Homo sapiens: one gene and its partner. The protein of the gene in region 1 purifies or fractionates together with the protein of each later gene. This does not show direct contact. Each region holds a gene or a part of one and is shown in the gene's direction. Other genes may lie near its edges.

Region 1 (4,068 bases):
CTAATTTTTGTGTTTTTAGTAGAAACAGGGTTTCGCCATGTTGGCCAGGCTGGTCTCCAACTCCTGACCTCAGGTGATCCACCCGCCTCGGCCTCCCAAAGTGCTGGGATTACAGGCGTGAGCCACTGTGCCTGGCCTTGATTGACTTTTTTAATACAAGACTATGAGAAACTAAAAATTCTATTTTGGGAGCCTTCCGTCCATTATGATAAAATTTTAAGGTTTTTTCCCCCCATCTCTCATAACAGGATCATAGCTTGTTTTCTCAAAAGTTTATGTAAAAGTGTCTTATTTATGTCTACATTGACTAGGTTGTGTTCATTTTACTTAACATATGAGAGTTTTCTTTCTCTCTTTTCTTCCCTTTGGAGTTATCGTTTGCATCTCCATGAAAAGAGAAGGCAGTGGAGATAATTGACATCAAAGTTAATACTTATGTTTATGTTACAGATTAAATTGTTAAGGCTGTAAATTTTATTATACATTATTTAATATTTTTTGTGGCATATGAAAAGTAATTCTTAGATTTGACTCTTAGAATTCTTTTGATTTGAATTCATATAGCATATTTACTTATTTATTTTTACTCTCACAAATGTATTTTTAGGTTCCAATGATTCTTGTTGGTAATAAGTGTGACTTGGAAGATGAAAGAGTTGTAGGGAAGGAACAAGGTCAAAATCTAGCAAGACAATGGAACAACTGTGCATTCTTAGAATCTTCTGCAAAATCAAAAATAAATGTTAATGAGGTATGGTCAAATATACTTAAAATGGGTCTTCATTTGAAGTACAACATTGAAGATGAATGGAAAATGTCTTAACCCCAAGTTAATATGTACTCAGGGTAATATGTTGATGTTACAGGCAAAAAAAAAAAACCCTCATGTTAAATGTATCTATGTAGTAAATAAACAATACTATTTCAGTCTCTATTAAATACTTGTACATTGATATTTACCATGAAAAAGGAAGACTGGACAGAAAATACATGGATAGGGAAGACAGATTAAGACTTCAGGTATATGAAGGATGTTATATGAAAAATAGAGTAAAATTCCGAAAAGTATGCATGGTTCTTGAAAGGCTCCAAGTCATGTTGTAGAGCAAAAACTTACAGTTTTTAAAAGGATTTTTTCTTTGTGTGATGGTAAATGTTCTAATTGAACTAAGTTAAGATCTCTGCAGCTCCTTCAACTAAGTATTTTAAGGAGCACAATATTAACACTCCCCAAAAATTTGAGCTTGGCAGTTATAACACCTGATTTTATTCTCATTCCTTAGCTGAACAATTCTGGGCATTAATTTATATCCATGGAAATTTCTGTTTTTTCAATTTACTTTTTTCATTGGGGGGGATAGGTGTTCCTCCTGTAAATTAAAACAAATTATTGTATTTGCAGATCTTTTATGACCTAGTGCGGCAAATTAACAGAAAAACTCCAGTGCCTGGGAAGGCTCGCAAAAAGTCATCATGTCAGCTGCTTTAATATACTAAATGCATTGTAGCTCTGAGCCAGGTATGTTCACTTATCTTTCCTCTAACTTTTAATCACTCAACCTTATTAAGGGCACTCTGTCATGAAAGCAAGTATAGACTTCTTTTTGTTGGTTCTGAAAAATAAATGGTTTATTTTTATAAGATATCCATGAGTTAGTATGCTATCTTATTAATTATTTACTTATCATCATGAGTAAAGTATTTCACATAAGTATTCTTTTTTTGAGATGGAGTTTCACTCTGTCACCCAGGCTGGAGTGCAGTGGCGCAATATCAGCTCCCTGCAACCTCCGCCTCCCAGGTTCAAGCAATGCTTCTGCCTCAGCCTCCCGAGTAGCTGGGATTACAGGCACGTGCCACCACGCCCGGCTAGTTTTTTTGTATTTTTAGTAGAGATGGTGTTTCACCATTGTTGGCCAGGATGGTCTCAATCTCTTGACCTCGTGATCTGCCCACCTCGGCCTCCCAAAGTGCTGAGATTACAGGCGTGAGCCACCACTCCCAGCCAACCCCGTCCCTAATTTAAAACACACACACACACACACACACACACACACACACACACACACACACACGTGCGCGCGTGCGCGTGAGCCACCGCTCCCAGCCAACCGTCCCTAATTTAAAACACACACACACACACACACCCCTGACATGTTCATCATGTGCCAGTCACACACACACACACACCCCTGACATGTTCATCATGTGCCACTTTTTTTTTTTTCCTTCAACTTTTAAGTTCCAGGATACATGTGCAGGATGTGCAGGTTTGTTACATAGGTAAAGGTGTACCATGGGGTTTGCTGCACAGATCTTGCATCGGTACCTGGCACATAGTTAACACTCAACTATTAGCTGCTGCTGTTTGCCAATGATAATGGTTTCCTCTTCAGCTGTCATTAAACTGTTTATTGTTAAACTGTTAATTTATTCTTAAGAACCTTTGACATTCCTGACTCTTATTTCTTCCTATGTTAATTGACTCAGTGCTGCCATAGCACTTTGATTCTGCATCTTTTCAGAGTTTTTATTCCTGCCTTCCATCTAGGGCTTTCTGTTTAGTGGTATATCCTCTCATTCTAATATCCTATAATTCCTGACCACATGCCCATTCTTAGCAGCACACATGTGCTTGAGCTCACACACTTCCATCTGTCCTTTTTAATTTGCAACAGTCTGCCAGGATTTAGAAAACTTGATTGCAAACCTCATTCAGACTCAGAATGAGGACCTAAAGTTCTAGGCATTTGTGAAAATTATTTCAACAGCCACATATGTATTAACAACTCTTCTGGAGCTTGTAACAAGTCTGATCACCAGAAAAATATAATAGGGAACATTTTTTTAGCCGAGGCATGTATGCAGAAAACTATTCAAAGTACATATTTAACAATTCTAAGTTTACTTTTTAAAATCTTTAATTACATGTGATTTTAGTGTAATACCACCTTTTTCTGACATCAGTCTTAATAGAATGTTTAAATATGGAATTAGAAATTATATAACGTGATTGTAAATCTGTAAAACACCATCATGAAATAAATTCTATTTGTCTGCTCTGAACGAGCTTTTTAGCCACTTTCATTGAAAGAGTGAGGAAGAACTTGATTATCTGATACTAGAAACCTTGGTTAGATGTGCATTCTATACTTATGATCTAATTCTAGGAGTACATTACGATTGTGTAAACACAGGATCACCCAGTTTGTTAATATTGCTATCTGACTTTTCAATCCTAATTCTAATAAGGTTGACTTGACTAACAATTTTAATGTGATTTTTTTCCTTTTTAATCCTTGGAAGGTAATGCACAAAAATTTGCACAAAGGTACTTTCCCTTTCTGTTCCTAAGATTTTCATTTAACTGACTTTCAAGAGGGCAGCAGAATAGACTTCATCTTTTTGGAATGAAAAGGTCTGCCGTGAATTGTGGTATGTTGCCACTAATGTAATGCCTAGAACAAGAGCCTAGATTATATTCATTTCTAACACTTTTAAGACTGTTTTCTTAACTGTTTGCTTTTGGGTCTTTACTTTTTCTAGCCCATGTTTTTAATTAATTTTTTTCCTTTTGACAGGTCTGAAGAACTGTTGCCCAATTCAACAGTGCCAGCATTCCAACTTTGTTAAACCTACCAACATCTTAAATGGACTTTCCTGTGGTGGTACCCTTTAAGAGGCGGATGAAAGCTACTATATCAGTTTGCACATTCTAATCACTTTCCAGTATCACAAGAGAGATTTTTACTTATATAATAGTCCTAGAGTTTGCAGCTGGTAAAACCAGAGGCTACATCCAGTATTACTGCTAAGAGACATTCTTCATCCACCAATGTTGTACATGTATGAAAATGGTGTACTGTATACTTTAACATGCCCCATACTTTGTATTGGAGAGTACAATAATGTAAATCCTAAAAGCACCACTATTTTAGCATAATAAAAGAAAGTCCAAAGAGCTCCTATATAGACTACTCCAGATAACTTCGCTTCTTTGATACTTGTAGCTTATTGTAATTTTTTTTAAGAAATTCAAGGTCATTATTATTGTACAAAATAAGCGCT
Region 2 (4,068 bases), on another chromosome or scaffold:
CTCATGCCTGTAATCTCAGCACTTTGGGAGACAGAGGTGGGAGGATTGTTTGAGCCCAGGAATTTGGGACCAGCTTAGGAAACATAGTGGGATCCTGTCTCTACCCAAAAAAAAAAATTAGCTGGGTGTGGTGATGCGTGCCTGTGGTTCTAGCTACTTGGGAGGCTGAGGCGGGAGGATCACTCGAGCCCAGGAAGTTGAGGCTGCACTCCAGCCTGTCTCAGAAAAAAAGAAAAATGTAAATGAAAAATATTGGCAAATATGTCCCTAAAACTTACTTATATCATCATTGATTATATATAACGTTCTAATTTCAGAGATGTTAATGTATGAAAAAATGTGTGTCCTAGATTCAATGAAATAAACTATGCCTTGAGTGTAGAGGGTAGATTGAGATGGCGTTATAGGTTTGGGCATTATCGATATATGATGTGGAAATGAATGAGATCACCCAGGGAGAAGAGATCTAAGATTAGCACTTGGAGAAACATTAACATTTTATGTAGTGAGCAAAGCTCCAAGGAGGTATTTGAAAAGAAGGGACTAACTTAAGGAAGTGTAAGAACCCAGAAGCAACAGAATGAAAGGATTTCAGTAACGTAGAGCAATTAATAGTGTTAAAAGTGCCATACAGGATGTATGTGTGTTCATTTTAAAGCTTGGAATCAGATTATAGAACCTCTTCTAGATGTTTGAAGGAAGTGGGTGGTTTTTGCTTTTTTCGCATTAATTGTAAATGATTTTACATGGCAGTATAACATACTAAGCAAATTATACCAAATTAGTCTATATGTCTTCAGTCTTGCTAATTTTAAATTTAAAATGTTATTGCCCACTTGTTTGTGGCAAAGGAGAAATAAAGGAATAGAATAAACTAACGTCAGTGTTTTTGTCTGTCAACTGTCTTTCAGTTTTTTATGAGAATAATCTTAGGGTGCCTTAAGTATTCTTGCATCAATGTGCCTAATTTTATCAATGAGAAAAGTAATCCAGATAATTTACGTGATTTCCTCTTAAGTTTACACATTTAGCTAATGACAAATGCAGGAATTAAATATATTTTCTCATCCAGGTGTCCGTCAGATCTCCCATGCTGTTTCTTCCTCCTTAAATTGAAGGTGATTACTTACGGAAATTTGGTTAAATGATTTGATAACTATGCTTTGTAGCATAGAGAGAAATAAACAGCTAGTTTAGGTAATTAGTTGTGAATATAAGAGAATACAGCAAATACTGGAAAAATGGATAATTTTTTTTAAAATATAGAAAATGTCATATATATTTTTTGATTCCTTTAATTTTTAGGATATGGTATGCTTTTTTTTCTTCCATTAGCAGTCTGAAAATATAAATATGTGTGAATACCAGTTTTATTGAAAATATTGAGAGTAGCTTCATATTTTAGAGTTATATAATGTTCTGTTTATTTTTTTTTTTAATAGAAAAAATGAATGCACCAAATCAGCCTCCACATAAAGACACTGGAAAAACAGTGGAGAATGTGGAAGAATACAGCTATAAGCAGGAGAAAAAGATCCGAGCAGCTCTTAGAACAACAGAGCGTGATCGTAAAAAAAATGTACAGTGCTCATTCATGTTAGACTCAGTGGGTGGATCTTTGCCAAAAAAATCAATTCCAGATGTGGATCTCAATAAGCCTTACCTCAGCCTTGGCTGTAGCAATGCTAAGCTTCCAGTATCTGTGCCCATGCCTATAGCCAGACCTGCACGCCAGACTTCTAGGACTGACTGTCCAGCAGATCGTTTAAAGTTTTTTGAAACTTTACGACTTTTGCTAAAGCTTACCTCAGTCTCAAAGAAAAAAGACAGGGAGCAAAGAGGACAAGAAAATACGTCTGGTTTCTGGCTTAACCGATCTAACGAACTGATCTGGTTAGAGCTACAAGCCTGGCATGCAGGACGGACAATTAACGACCAGGACTTCTTTTTATATACAGCCCGTCAAGCCATCCCAGATATTATTAATGAAATCCTTACTTTCAAAGTCGACTATGGGAGCTTCGCCTTTGTTAGAGATAGAGCTGGTTTTAATGGTACTTCAGTAGAAGGGCAGTGCAAAGCCACTCCTGGAACAAAGATTGTAGGTTACTCAACACATCATGAGCATCTCCAACGCCAGAGGGTCTCATTTGAGCAGGTAAAACGGATAATGGAGCTGCTAGAGTACATAGAAGCACTTTATCCATCATTGCAGGCTCTTCAGAAGGACTATGAAAAATATGCTGCAAAAGACTTCCAGGACAGGGTGCAGGCACTCTGTTTGTGGTTAAACATCACAAAAGACTTAAATCAGAAATTAAGGATTATGGGCACTGTTTTGGGCATCAAGAATTTATCAGACATTGGCTGGCCAGTGTTTGAAATCCCTTCCCCTCGACCATCCAAAGGTAATGAGCCGGAGTATGAGGGTGATGACACAGAAGGAGAATTAAAGGAGTTGGAAAGTAGTACGGATGAGAGTGAAGAAGAACAAATCTCTGATCCTAGGGTACCGGAAATCAGACAGCCCATAGATAACAGCTTCGACATCCAGTCGCGGGACTGCATATCCAAGAAGCTTGAGAGGCTCGAATCTGAGGATGATTCTCTTGGCTGGGGAGCACCAGACTGGAGCACAGAAGCAGGCTTTAGTAGACATTGTCTGACTTCTATTTATAGACCATTTGTAGACAAAGCACTGAAGCAGATGGGGTTAAGAAAGTTAATTTTAAGACTTCACAAGCTAATGGATGGTTCCTTGCAAAGGGCACGTATAGCATTGGTAAAGAACGATCGTCCAGTGGAGGTAGGTTTCCAGTAGGTATTAATACAATGATATCCTTAGTTCCATTTATTTATTGCAAATTATAATGTTGGTGTTATGTACTTTCATATTCTAATATTTTTGAACACAAATGGCAGTTATAAATTGCACATTTAAGCATTTCTGTAAAGTACTATGATTAAATAGATCTATGAAAACTGCATGAAATTTAGTGAATTAAGTGCAGGGTGGTATGTGGAGGGAATAAGTTCAACCACGTAAATACAGGATGGCAAAGGACAGGCTGGGTATAAACAAAAATGGAAGGAAGAAAGCCATAGTCATGGATGACCACAAGCTGCATGTGAGTCAGGAAAAAAGTCCACGTCACACTCAGGTGTTTATAAATGAATAGGGCGCCCAAGGTCAAGGAGAGAGTTCTTTCTCTATCCTTTGAAGTTGTTTTCTCTCTTTTGATTAGCATGTCAAGTTTTGGTCACTGTATTTTAAAGAGATGTAAATTATAGAGAAATGTCAGAATGATCAAGGGGAAAAAGCCAACACTATCTCGCAAGGTTAAAGTGTTCGGTGCAGGTGATGAAAGTTTAAGGGAAGTCCTGATTTTTGTCAGATATGTGTTTCGATATGTGTAGATTTTTGTGAGAGGAATGTGCCCACTAGAGGAAGTGACTTGAAAACAGTATAGATTTGCTTTTGATAGCTTGACGTGTTATAAATTCCTTATTGTAAAGGGTGGTAATACTAGACAAGGGCATTTTGTGGGATATCATTCTTGAGAGTCCAAAATAGTACTGTACAAGTGATTTTGCTTTTCTGGTGAGTTTGCATGTTCGTCTGGCTAAAAGTGAAACCCAAATCTTTGAAATACCTTATACCCGTGTTAAGTCTGTGATTCTGAATTTTAGTAGCTGTATACATACATATGTACAATCCCCTTGGTATCAGAGGTGGTTTGGTTTTGGGACTTCCCACGGATCCCAAAATCCGAAAATGCTCAAGTCCCTCATACAAAATGATGCAGTATTTGCATATAACCAATGCACAACCTCGTATGCTTTAATCTCGAGATTATGTGTAATGCCTTATGTAATATAAATGCTGTGTAAATGGTTGTTAATACTGTATAGTTTGGGGAATAATGGCAAGAAAAAAGTTTGTACATGTTTAATACAGATGTAGTTTTTCTTCCCAAATATTTCTGATCTGCAGTTGGTTGAATTCATGGATGTGGAACCCACGGATATGGAGAGCCAACTGTATATACTTGTTATTTTTATTTTTTT

The links.
Region 2: the proteins of RAP1B (region 1) and MAP3K4 purify together in Homo sapiens (affinity purification with mass spectrometry, with the first as the bait; one large-scale study listed by BioGRID). This does not show direct contact.

The regions. Positions count from the first base shown.
Region 1 is NC_000012.12:68,655,699-68,659,766, forward strand, and holds part of RAP1B (ras-related protein Rap-1b isoform 1 precursor), read left to right. Parts: intron 1-607; coding exon 608-751; intron 752-1,402; coding exon 1,403-1,489; 3' UTR 1,490-1,519; intron 1,520-3,581; 3' UTR 3,582-4,068. UniProt on the Homo sapiens protein: GTP-binding protein that possesses intrinsic GTPase activity. Contributes to the polarizing activity of KRIT1 and CDH5 in the establishment and maintenance of correct endothelial cell polarity and vascular lumen.
Region 2 is NC_000006.12:161,047,174-161,051,241, forward strand, and holds part of MAP3K4 (mitogen-activated protein kinase kinase kinase 4), read left to right. Parts: intron 1-1,442; coding exon 1,443-2,806; intron 2,807-4,068. UniProt on the Homo sapiens protein: Component of a protein kinase signal transduction cascade. Activates the CSBP2, P38 and JNK MAPK pathways, but not the ERK pathway. Specifically phosphorylates and activates MAP2K4 and MAP2K6.